Linked DNA regions of Homo sapiens. The protein of the gene in region 3 purifies or fractionates together with the protein of the main gene of each other region. This does not show direct contact. Each region holds a gene or a part of one and is shown on either strand. Other genes may lie near its edges.

Region 1 (3,751 bases), on a different chromosome or scaffold from region 3:
TTCCTGTGGCACTTGGTGCCCGAGGTCCCAGTTGTGGAACTCTCAGTTGTGCCATAGCCTTTGGGTCCCCCCGCCCAGCTAGGCCAGGATCCTTGCCAACTGGGGTATTTACACTTTCTGTTGGACTTCTCTTCCGCTTGTCTGGTTCTGAGGGAAAAATATCAAGAGGTCAAGAGAAGTAGTGAGTAGGAATCAAGGCGCAGATATGAGGTGGGAGGAGCCAGGATACAGGAGGGTGCGGAATGGAAGAAGTTCAAGGAAAGATGAGCTGATGTCTTATTTTTCGTAACAAAGAATACCCACTGCGTATAAACATGCATTAGAAAATAAAATCCCAAAGCCTAATGGGAAGCAGCGTGGCACTGGGAAACGTGTCCTGGGTACACATATATTTTCTCTTCAGGAGACAAGTGGCAGAGTTAGGGATGGCGTGGTGCCCAGCAAGTACGATCCCTACCTTTACTATAGTAGTGGGTCTGGGCAATCTCCAAAAGCCCAAAGATGCTGGCCATGCCACCCAGACCCGCGTGGGCATAGGACTGCTCCAAGCTGAGGACTGTACACTTGAGGAGGTCTAACATTCCCTTGTACACCTTCCGACTGATCTCCTGCAACAATAACCCAGGGGCTAGCGTTGGCAAATTGCCTGTGGTGTTCACATCCCTCTCTCCAGTTACTCCGATTCCCTACCCCCAACACTGACCACATCCGGGATGATGTCCTGCCGGGCATCGTCCTCTGACTGCACCATGCGGTTCAGCTTGCTCAGGACAAAGACTCGCAGCTGCTCGCTCTCCAGCAGCCGGCGCACCTTTTTCATGTTGAGCCAGCCAACTCCCTGGCCGTCCAGCACGCTGTGCACCACCTCCTTCAGGAACTGCTGGTTCTCACTACAGGGTCCACACACCGCTTCTGTGGTCATCAGCTCCTTTGCAGAGCACCCCCCACCTTTCACCCAGACTAGATGTCTGCCTCCAGGGGTAAAACACAAAGCCATGTCTCTGAATGTCCAAGTGCACCACATCCCCACCTCTCTGGAGCACGCGATTTGTCCAAATACCCACCGCTGCTGATTAACCCCCCTCAACACTGTAAGCTTTCAGTTGCATGGAGATCAAGCCAGAATGAGAAGTGCTGGCAAGAAATTGATTACATCTACCCCATTGAGAGCTTCTCTCCCACTCTTGAGCATCCCTAAAGTTCTGTAGAGGAACCACCCCACCTCTGCCTGAGAACTTTTAAAACAGCTCTACCATTTATTACCTAGAATTGCTGGATCGACCCTGGGGTGATGGAGGTTCTCTTTTCACTGTTGGGCTGTGTTTAATGACAGATGACTTCTGATCCACTAACGCCCTCCTGTTTCCTGTGGCAGGGAAGGCAGGAATGAGAGACATCACTATTGTAGTACAGGAGCTCATGCCAGCACAGCCCTAAGTAGCCATGTTCCATGCCCGTTCCTCAGAAGGGCTGGGTGAGGGTAGCACCAAGGCATCATACGTAGGTAGAAACCAGCCATGGCAATGTGGAGGAGGTGGGGATGGAGACTCAGGCCACTCCACATGCACCAGCAGCAAGCCCCATGGGCAAGCATGGGCGTCACGGGGGACGGGGCAAGCAGGTCACTCATGTGACGCTGCTTGCTCCATGAGAAGGATGGCCCTCGGGCAGGCACAGAAGATGCTAGAGAAAAAAAAAAGATCATGCACAGCTCACAGGCAAGACCCACCTTCACCACTCCCGGGGCCGGCTTCAGTAACAATCTCCATTAGAGTATTTAGCCCAAATACTGGGACACAAAATACACAATTAGTAGGTGTACCACAATACCGCAACCCCTCTACCCCTCCGAGGAGCAGTAAGCCAGATAATCTGAGCATTCTCCCAAAGCTTGAGGAATGCACATAACCTTGGTTCTTGGGCACCTCAGAGCTGGAAGCCAAGTGACCAGGAGACAACCAAGGCTCTAAGAAAAGACCACCCTTAAAACTGGCCTCTCAAGCCAGGGGCGGGTAAATGACACAGGGAGCCTTCAGGTACTGAACACACACATGCATGAAACAGGGACCGCTGGTTTTCAGAAAACATCCAGCACAGAGGGCCAGGGGCCTGAGGGTATGTGCAGGGAAGCAACCCATCTTGCAGATGCTGTTGTGGGGAGTGGGGTCAGGGTATGAGGATGGGAGATGGGTGAGAGGGTAAGTGCAGCAAATGCGACAAAGCATCAGCATGCAATGAAAGAGTTTCAATCGCTCTTCTCTTCAAATGTACCAAATGAAGGCCAGTGACACTGACACCCTTCCATCCTTAGCCTACCCGGCCACATGTGGATTCCCTGGCAGTGCTAGTTCGCTCCTTTCACTGCCAGCTCTGATGTCCTTTTGCCCATTTATCCAATGTTCCCATCCTCACCTAAGAACATGTCTTAGACTCCTGACAACTTTGTTTGTTTCTGTTGGCTTCTTTTAGAGACAGGGTTTCACTCTGTCGTCCAGGCTGGAGTGCACTGGCCTAATTATAGCTCACTGTACCTCAAACTCCTGGGCTCAAATGAACCTCCTGCCTCTGCCTAACAAGTAGCTAGGATGACAGGTGTGAGCTACTGCACCCAAGTAACCTGACATTTTTTACCACTAGGAATGAGAGGTCAGTTAAAGAATACATGAGGTTGGCCAGGTGCGGTGGCTCACGCCTGTAATCCCAACCCTTTGGGAGGCCAAGGCGGGTAGATCACAAGGTCAGGAGATCGAGACCATCCTGGCTAACACGGTGAAACCTTGTCTCTACTAAAAATACAAAAAATTAGGCAGGCGTGGTGGCAGGCTCCTATAGTCCCGGCTGCTCAGGAGGCTGAGGCAGAATGGTGTGAACCCGGGAGGCGGAGCTTGCAGTGAGGCAAGATTGCACCACTGCACTCCAGCCTGGGCAACAGAGCGAGACTCTTGTCTCAAAAAAAAAAAAAAAAAAAAAAAAATACATGTTTCTCACTGCACTTCCTACCACAGTTAAATATTTCGTCATACCATCCAGAGAAAACAAAAAAATCAGGCCAGGTGCAGTGGCTCACACCTGTAATCCTGGCACTTTGGGAGGCCAAGGTGGGCAGATCACTCAAGGTCAGGAGTTCAAGACCAGCCTGGCCAACATGGTGAAACCCCGTCTCTACTAAAAATACAACAATTAGCCAGGCGAGGTGGTATGTGCCTATAATTCCAACTACACGGGAGGCTGAAGCATGTGAATCACTTGAGCCTGGATGGCGGCAGTTACAGTGAGCCAAGATCACCACCTTGCACTCCATCCAGCCTGGGTGACGGAGTGACACTGTCTCAGAAAATAAAAAAAATAAAAAATCAAATTCAGAAAAGCCCCTGAAACTGTCAGATAGCACAAACCAATTCAAATAAGGTTTCGTTTTTTGTTTTTTGTTTTTTTAAGACGGAGTCTTGCTCTGTCACCCAGGCTGGAGTGCAGTGGCGCGACCTCGGCTCACTGCAACCTCCGCCTCCTGGATTCAAGCGATTCTCCTGCCTCAGCCTCCCAAGTAGCTGGGATTACAGGTGCGTGACACCAGATGGCTAACTTTTGTATTTTTAGCAGAGACGGCGTTTCGCCATGTTGGTCAGTCTGGTCTCGAACTCCTGACCTCGTGATCCACCCGCCTCGGCCTCCCAAAGTGCTGGGATTACAGGCGTGAGCCACCGCGCCTGGCTTTCACATAAGGTTTTAACTGCCCCTAGAAACTAACCAA
Region 2 (3,751 bases), on a different chromosome or scaffold from region 3:
AGCTTCCCTCTTCTGGCATGTGTATAGCCTGCAGGTACTTAACAGAGGTAAAAAAATTTATATGGTGCTAGGTGGCTAGAGAAGCTTCAGTTTGCTCCATGGTTTGGAATTTTAGAGGAAGCATTTTTTTTTTTCCGAGTGTTTTTTATTCTGTCATTCCAGCGGCTTCATATACAGATAGCTCTGATGATGAGACATCGCCCAGGGACAAGCAGCAAAAGAACTCTAAGGGAAGCAGTGACTTCTGTGTTAAGAACATCAAACAGGCAGAGTTTGGACGAAGAGAAATTGAAATTGCTGAACAAGGTAAAGAAAACAAGCACCTTTTCCTTCTTAACCTACCTGTGTCTTTTTGTCCATATTAATCCCTTTTTATGTCTGGGGTCTGGTAGCTTGTGAAATTTCTATGTGATAAGAATACTTATAACAAAAGAAATGTGAGTTCAAGAAACACTGGGGAAATCTGGCAAGTCTAGAAGGAACCCTGTATTAAAAAAAAAAAAAAAAAAGGGAGAGAGACTGGATAAGGACTGGAATATAGAGAATCAGAACCCTGGAGCATTTGCCTCCAAAAGCCCTTTATAAAGGAAAATACAGGTTTAATGTCTTGATCCCTGGAGAAACCTAATCTAACCTGATCAGGGGAAGGATCTTAACTTAAGAAAACAAGTTTTTCTGTTTGTTCTTTTATCTCTTATTCCTTCTTCTTTAATATTGCTGTATTTATTGGGCCTTTTCAGAAATGCCTGCATTGATGGCTTTGAGGAAGAGAGCTCAAGGAGAAAAGCCTTTGGCTGGAGCCAAAATCGTGGGTTGCACACACATCACTGCTCAGACTGCTGTGAGTTCTTTTCTTTTCTCCTTTTAATTACAATAGTTAATAATAGCCACGAGCTACTGAAAGCTTACAACATGCCAAGCACCGAGTTAAGAGCTTAACAAGTATTAGCTTATTAATCCTTATAATGGCCATATAAAGCAGGTATTCTTGTTTCCATTTTATAAACGAAGAAGCTGAGGCTCAGAGGGCTTAAGATATTTGTTTAAGGTTATACAGCTAGAAATCACAGAGTCAAGATTTTAACTTCAATATACAGTAGTCCCCCTGCCTTGTCTGTGGGGGATAAGTTTCAAGACCCCTAGTGGACACCTGAAACTTCAGACAGTACTGAACCCTATATATACTATGTTTTTTCCTATACATATATACCTATAATCAAGTTTAATTTATGCAATTGGCCCTGCATGTCCACCAGTTCTGCTTCCTGAGGATTTGACCAACTGCAGATCAAAAATATTCAGAAAATAAAATAATACAACAATACAAAATAACAAGAAATATAACAACTATTTACATAGCATTTACACTGTATTGGGTACTATAAATAACCTAGAGATGCTTTAAAATATACAGAAGGATGTGCACAGATTATATGCAAACACTGCATCATTTTATATAAGGGACATGAGCATCCTCAGATTTTGGTATCCATGGGAGTGCTGGAATAAATCCCCTGAGGATACTGAGAGACAGCTATAAATTCAGCACAGTAAGAAATGAACAACAGTAACTCAAAATAAAAGAGAGCAATTACAACAACAGACTGTAATAAAAGTTATGTCACATAAAGGAATTTATCACAGTACATAGCAGAAAGTCCAAAGGGAAGGCAGACTTCAGATGCAGGATCTCAGGGCTCCAGCTTCACCTCTCTGATTCTCTTGGAGCTGCCTCCTCAGTATGCTTACTTCACCCTAAAGCTGATAGCAAGATGCTTACAACTATTCTAGTCATCACAAACTGACATGAAAAGGAAGAGGGACCATTTCTTCCTCACTCAAGAGAAGTCCCTCCAGGATACTCCATCGTGTCTCATTGGGCAGAACTGGATCATGTATCTGTGCTCCACCAGTCCTACCGAGGGGCGTGGAATTACCATGATTTGCTTACACCAGTGATTCCTACCTTACTCTCATCAGTTTTAATGTCCCCTTTTTATTAAAAAACTTTTTTTTTGCAGTGTCCCTGAACTATCCTGAAATGAAATTCAGATATAACATGTCCAGGTACATATAATCTTTAAAAATAAATCAATATAAAATCTTAACTGAAATATGAAGGAGGAATAAAAAAAGTACAATACTTAAAATAATGTGTATTTCAATATGTAAATACTTGAGGACAACTATAGTAGAACAATCAGATATTTGTACTATTTCACAGTATTATTTGAAATAGTATTATTTGAAGACAGAAATAAATGTGTTATTGATTCCAGAGCATCAGAGCAGCATTGCCATGATTTTCTGAAATAGTAAACAACTTTTTGTAATCTTCTAAACAATAAGAACAACAAAAAGTATGAGTTTTCTCTTCATTTACATAGCTGTTACATTCCTGGAAAAACTATTGTTTTGTATTAAAACTACAAAACTACTTTTTGCTAATTTGTAAAGTGGAATTAGGTTCTAAACTCAGATAATTGTAGATAGGTTTTTCACCCATGGGAACTTTTATTGGGACATTTGAAAATTGTACCAGCTGCAACACAGTTTTTTGTTGAGACACTTTCAAAATGTCCAGATTCCTGGTCCTGCCCACTAAATGCCAATAGCACTCCCCTTCCAATTATTGTGGCAACCAAAAATGCCCCCACAATTTTCTAGATCTCCTCTTTTATCACCAGAGATGCAATATATATGGAGTTGCTAACCATAATGAGACCACTATCGGGAAATTGTTATATTGAGCAGTGGTCTGGAATCTTTTATGGGGATTCATAAGATCTGGGTCATCTGTGTGGCTAGATCAGCTTTCCAAAGATTGTCTCTCCCAAAGCACAACACTTATGTGGTCACATTCCTGATTAAGAACATTAGAGATTCCTCAAGGTACAGACAGCTTCTATTAGCATCTTCACTATGAAACTTTTCTGGGTTATGTGTTCTCTGAGGACAAGAGTACCCTGACTGCTCAAAATTAATATAATAAATTGAAAAGCTATCTGTTTTGGAGCTACAAACTAATGAATCAAGACAGAAACACTCTTGAATCTTTTTTGGCCTGCTCAGTCAGCGACATGAGACTTCAGTGTGGTAGCTTAAAATAGTAAGTGCTTCTCTACTGTCTCATGTTGCTGAATTACATCTAGTTTGTTTTTTACCCTTAGGCTCAGTGAGCATTACCACCTTTCATGGTTCCCTTTCTATTTTTTTCCTGAATGGATTGATCACAATTAGCTTACCAATTTTAATATTAATTTATTGTTTCCACCCCACATTTTTTTCCTTTAAAAAAATAACGACAAAGAAATTATGCTTTGTTTGCCAACCTAATACTCTTTCACTCTTGTCTTAGTTCATTTGGGCTGCTATAACAAAATACCTTAGACTGGGTAATTAATAAACAATAGATATTTATTGTTCACAGTTCTGGAGGCTAGGAAGTCCAAGATCAAGGCGCCAGCAGATTCAGTATCTGGTGAGGGCCTGTTCCTTATAGATGGCGCTTTCTATGTGCCCTCACATGGCCAAAGGGGCAAGCAAGCTTCCTCAGGCTTGTTTTATAAGTACACTAATCCCATTTGTGAGGGCAGAAATCTCATGTCTAATCACCTTCCAATCACTTCCATAATCACCTTTTAATACCATCGCCTAGGGGGTTAGTTTTTAACATATGACTCTGGGGGAGGAGAACATACATTCAGACCATAGCAATCCCCAAATACTTTAGTGTGTATTTTCTACAAAG
Region 3 (3,751 bases):
CTCAGTTGTTTTGTTGTTACCATCACCAGCCAGCTGGTGAACAGGAATGAATTCCAAAGAAGTAAGAAGAAGATCATGGAAGAAAAACCTATAATTGAGAACATCCTATGTTCTTGAAAAATTTCTTGAAATTTGGGGAAAAGAAGCCTATTGCTCAATATTCATTGTAAAATGTTTTCATTCAGGCATCAGAGGAGCTCTAGTATTTCATGGGCACCTGATTTGGTAAACCATAGTAGCCAACTCTCCAGCAGTCTCATGGGAGAGAAAACAGCTATGGAACTAGGCTTTGGGATCACACCCCAGTGACATAGCCTTGTACAGGGGCACATGGCTTCTAGCCCTGGCTGTGAAACTGAACTCACAGGTGCTCAGACACAGGATGGACATCTCAGGTGGGCGGCAGTGCCAGAATGACCGACAGCACAGCATGTATCATCTTCATTGCTTTCTAATTGCGTGACCTTGAGCAAGTTATTTAACCTGTCCAAATCTTAGTTTTCTCTTTTATTTAGTCAGGATTCGAATTATTCCTACTTTGCAGAATCATTGTGAATATTAAATAAGCTAAGACTTTGAGCACAGGCCCTGGTACACAGTGAATGTCCCCAAAATGTAAGCTGCTGTTATTCTTCATGTTTTGTTTTTTGGTGGAGGATAACAGTTGACTGTGTATACAGAACAGACACAAAGCTAAGCTAAGTCTTTGAGGCAGGGAAGGGAGACTCCAGATCAGAGGACAAAGAATCTGAGGGACGTCAGGCCCCTCTTCTCTCCTGGGAAGTTGAGATCCCCTTCAAGGCCATCAGGATAGGATCTGCTTGTCACCTTAAATGAGACTGTCTGGTTGGGGTGATGGCCCATGGTCTCCCTCCTCTTCCAGAAAATGCTGGGTTATTAAATAGCAGCTCAGGGCTTTCTTATCTTCCCCCACTGACACTTCTTTCTCCAAAGACAGCCCTAGTGCCCCCTCCCCTCTTCTCCACCCATAGTGTTAGAATTCATCAGCAATTCTTATTGCTTGCTATTGTTCCCATTTTTCTAATGGGCTCCCACATCAGAAAAATCCATTTTGTAACAGTAACAGGCGTTCTTGCTAACAGATTGTAATTGAAGAGATAAACTGGGAAGAGGAAGCAAAAAGAAAGAACCATTTTCCCTACTCACCCCAAAGCCAGAGAAGGCTGGCTTCAGGGCCTGGAATTGGTGGTGGACCCTCAGAAACGGTCAGTGCTCAGGCTGGGGAGAGCAGGAGCTGCCTCGGCCAAGGAGCTCTCGTGCAGACACAGACAGAGACATAGACAAAGCACAGCCCAGAGGCCAGGGAGCAAGTGACGCAGAGGCCCAGGAGCTTGGAAGAAGAGCGTTTAGCCTGGGAAGAGAAGAGATTCTGGGCAGAACCACTCATAAAATACTAATAATATCATTTATTTATTTATTTATTTATTTATTTATTTATTAATACATAGTGAGCATTATGCCCTTTACATTATCTAATTTAACCTTTCTAGCCTCCCTAAGAAATTGGTATACACCCTTAAAGATAAAGAAACTAAGCATAGAGATGTTAACCAGGTAACTTGTTCAAGGGTACAGTGCATTAAGGAGAAGAGCTGGGATTTGAACCTAGGACTTGCTGATGCCCAAATCTGGGCTCTTGAATCACGTATCTGGGAGGACTACAGATTGAGCTGTGGAGTCCCAGGCTGGACAGAGAAGTTGGAGTGGGGGCAGGCATTTCTTAGTTGTACTCAGGAGAGGATGGGAGGGATACTCCCACTTTTTGGCCTGACCCTATGAACCTGGACAGAGCCCCAGAGACTCAGATTATGACCAGCCTGGTGACCACCTGCCCCATCTTCTTCCCTGGAAAGCTGACACTTCAGGTTGCCCACCAGCCACCAGGCAAGTAACCAGTGGCCTCTGGAAAAGGTGTACCTGAGGAATATCTGAGAGAGAGAGAGAGAGAGAGATTGTGTGTGTGTGTGTGTGTGTGTTGGGAGAACAGAGCTATTCTGTACTGAGGCTCAGACGTGGCCCATTAATAATTAATAATAAGCTCTGCCAGGGCTTGTAAGTTTATTAGGAGAACCGGTGTAATTAAAATTCAGGGCTGGGGGGAGGGGAGCAGAGGGCTTTTGCTTCCTTTGCTTCTTTCAGAGATCCAGACTGAGCTACCAATGGGGATAATTAGCAGAGTCCAAACAGAGAAGGAATTAATGCTCCTGAAAAAGCTGTGATGAGGAGAGACAATGCCAAGCTAATTACGGCCGCACCAAGCTTTATGACTGGGCGCTCACTTCCACCATCATTAGGGGATTCAGAGCTAAATCGGAGACTAATGTGGAGTGTTACAGCTAACAGAACATTGGCACTAATTTAACAATTATTAATATTATTAGTTTGGTGGATGGTAACTGTACCTTTCTGCTTGAGGGGTCAGGGCATGTGGCCCTTCTGAATGTGGGATCAAGGCTGGAGTGATGGAGGTGGAGGGCAGACAGCCAGAAATTCTTTTCCCTCTATGCTTCTCTCCCTGTTTGTACCTGCAACTAGTGAGAGGAGGGGTCTGCCTGGGTCCTCGGGGAGCAAGAAAGAGTTCAGTGCTCCTAGAAGAAAGAAGGGAGGGATGAGGTTGTGTCATTATACTTGGAGGGTCCAGATCTGGATGCCCCTGTTTATTTCTACTTTCAGAGACTCCTCTGATTTCAGTTCCTAAGTGTGACTCAGTCCTTAGAGGCTTCTTTTCCTAAGCAAGAATAGAAAGGGTGCCACCCAGTTTAGTCGGAACTTTGTCTTAGCATGCTTTCCCCACTCCAGACAACCCTATACAGACCATAAAGAAACCTGGTTTGATCCAGATGCCTCAATGCCACTCCTCACTATTTGCAGCCACATGTTATACCCCTAACTCTGTGGACAGGGAAGATAAACTTCAGACAGTTAGAAGAGAACATGTCTTTTGTACAGAGCTTAGAGGGATGACACATACTGAAACCACCATCCCTACTTGACGTTCTCATCAAAGTCAGAGGGAGAAGAAAACTTCTAGAACTATAAATCTAAGGGCTCTACAACTCTTAGATACTGGACCCTGCTTCTAGAACTCTAAAGCTCAAAACACACTAGTCAGAATATCATCTCCTTGGGTTCTAAAGGATTGTGCATTGTACCTTTCCTCAAAAAGGGCAAAATCTGCAGAATTCCATCCTTCCAGTGAGAAGGACAAACATCACATAAATTTCATGGCCACAAGTAAACTGGAGTTAACCACTCCCGGCTGCCAGCCTAAGAAAAACAGGGAAGCTTGAGGTCTCCTGTCAGGTTTCTGCATTTGCTGGAGCACTTCTGGACCTCTGCTTGCTACCTTAAGTCCAGAACCCATGCTGACCATACCTAAACCTCTGCAGCTTGGCTTATGGAAAAAGTTCATTCATTTCTACAAGGCAAATGACACAATGAAAGGTGGAGAACTGCTTATTAGTGTTCACTTGGGGTGTATTAAGGAGAATAGCAGGCCTATGGCTTCAGAGTTTTTAAAGAAAAAGGGGAAACTTGCTTTTAGTTTGGACAGTTTGTGTACAGGTGTTTCCAAGTCAGGGTCTGATTAACTGAGACTTCCTGTGCAATTCCTAGCACAGACTCTAGCCTATAGAGGAGTCTCAGCAAATGACAGTGGAGTCTGAATCTCAGTCTCAGGGTGTTACTAGAAATCTGTAAGCTAGAGACTTAGAACAGGAAGAAGTCAAGG

What was found.
Region 1: the proteins of SYT6 (region 3) and MADD purify together in Homo sapiens (affinity purification with mass spectrometry; 3 studies listed by BioGRID and IntAct, with this or other methods). This does not show direct contact.
Region 2: the proteins of SYT6 (region 3) and AHCYL2 purify together in Homo sapiens (affinity purification with mass spectrometry; 3 studies listed by BioGRID and IntAct, with this or other methods). This does not show direct contact.

What each region holds. Positions count from the first base shown.
Region 1 is NC_000011.10:47,287,006-47,290,756, reverse strand, and holds part of MADD (MAP kinase-activating death domain protein), read right to left. Parts: intron 1,790-3,751; coding exon 1,730-1,789; intron 1,367-1,729; coding exon 1,264-1,366; intron 969-1,263; coding exon of another isoform or gene 891-968; coding exon 704-890; intron 609-703; coding exon 458-608; intron 148-457; coding exon 1-147. UniProt on the Homo sapiens protein: Guanyl-nucleotide exchange factor that regulates small GTPases of the Rab family. Converts GDP-bound inactive form of RAB27A and RAB27B to the GTP-bound active forms.
Region 2 is NC_000007.14:129,388,894-129,392,644, forward strand, and holds part of AHCYL2 (adenosylhomocysteinase 3), read left to right. Parts: exon of another isoform or gene 1-47; intron 48-162; coding exon 163-306; intron 307-740; coding exon 741-841; intron 842-3,751. UniProt on the Homo sapiens protein: May regulate the electrogenic sodium/bicarbonate cotransporter SLC4A4 activity and Mg(2+)-sensitivity. On the contrary of its homolog AHCYL1, does not regulate ITPR1 sensitivity to inositol 1,4,5-trisphosphate.
Region 3 is NC_000001.11:114,147,244-114,150,994, forward strand, and holds part of SYT6 (synaptotagmin-6), read right to left. Parts: intron 1-3,751.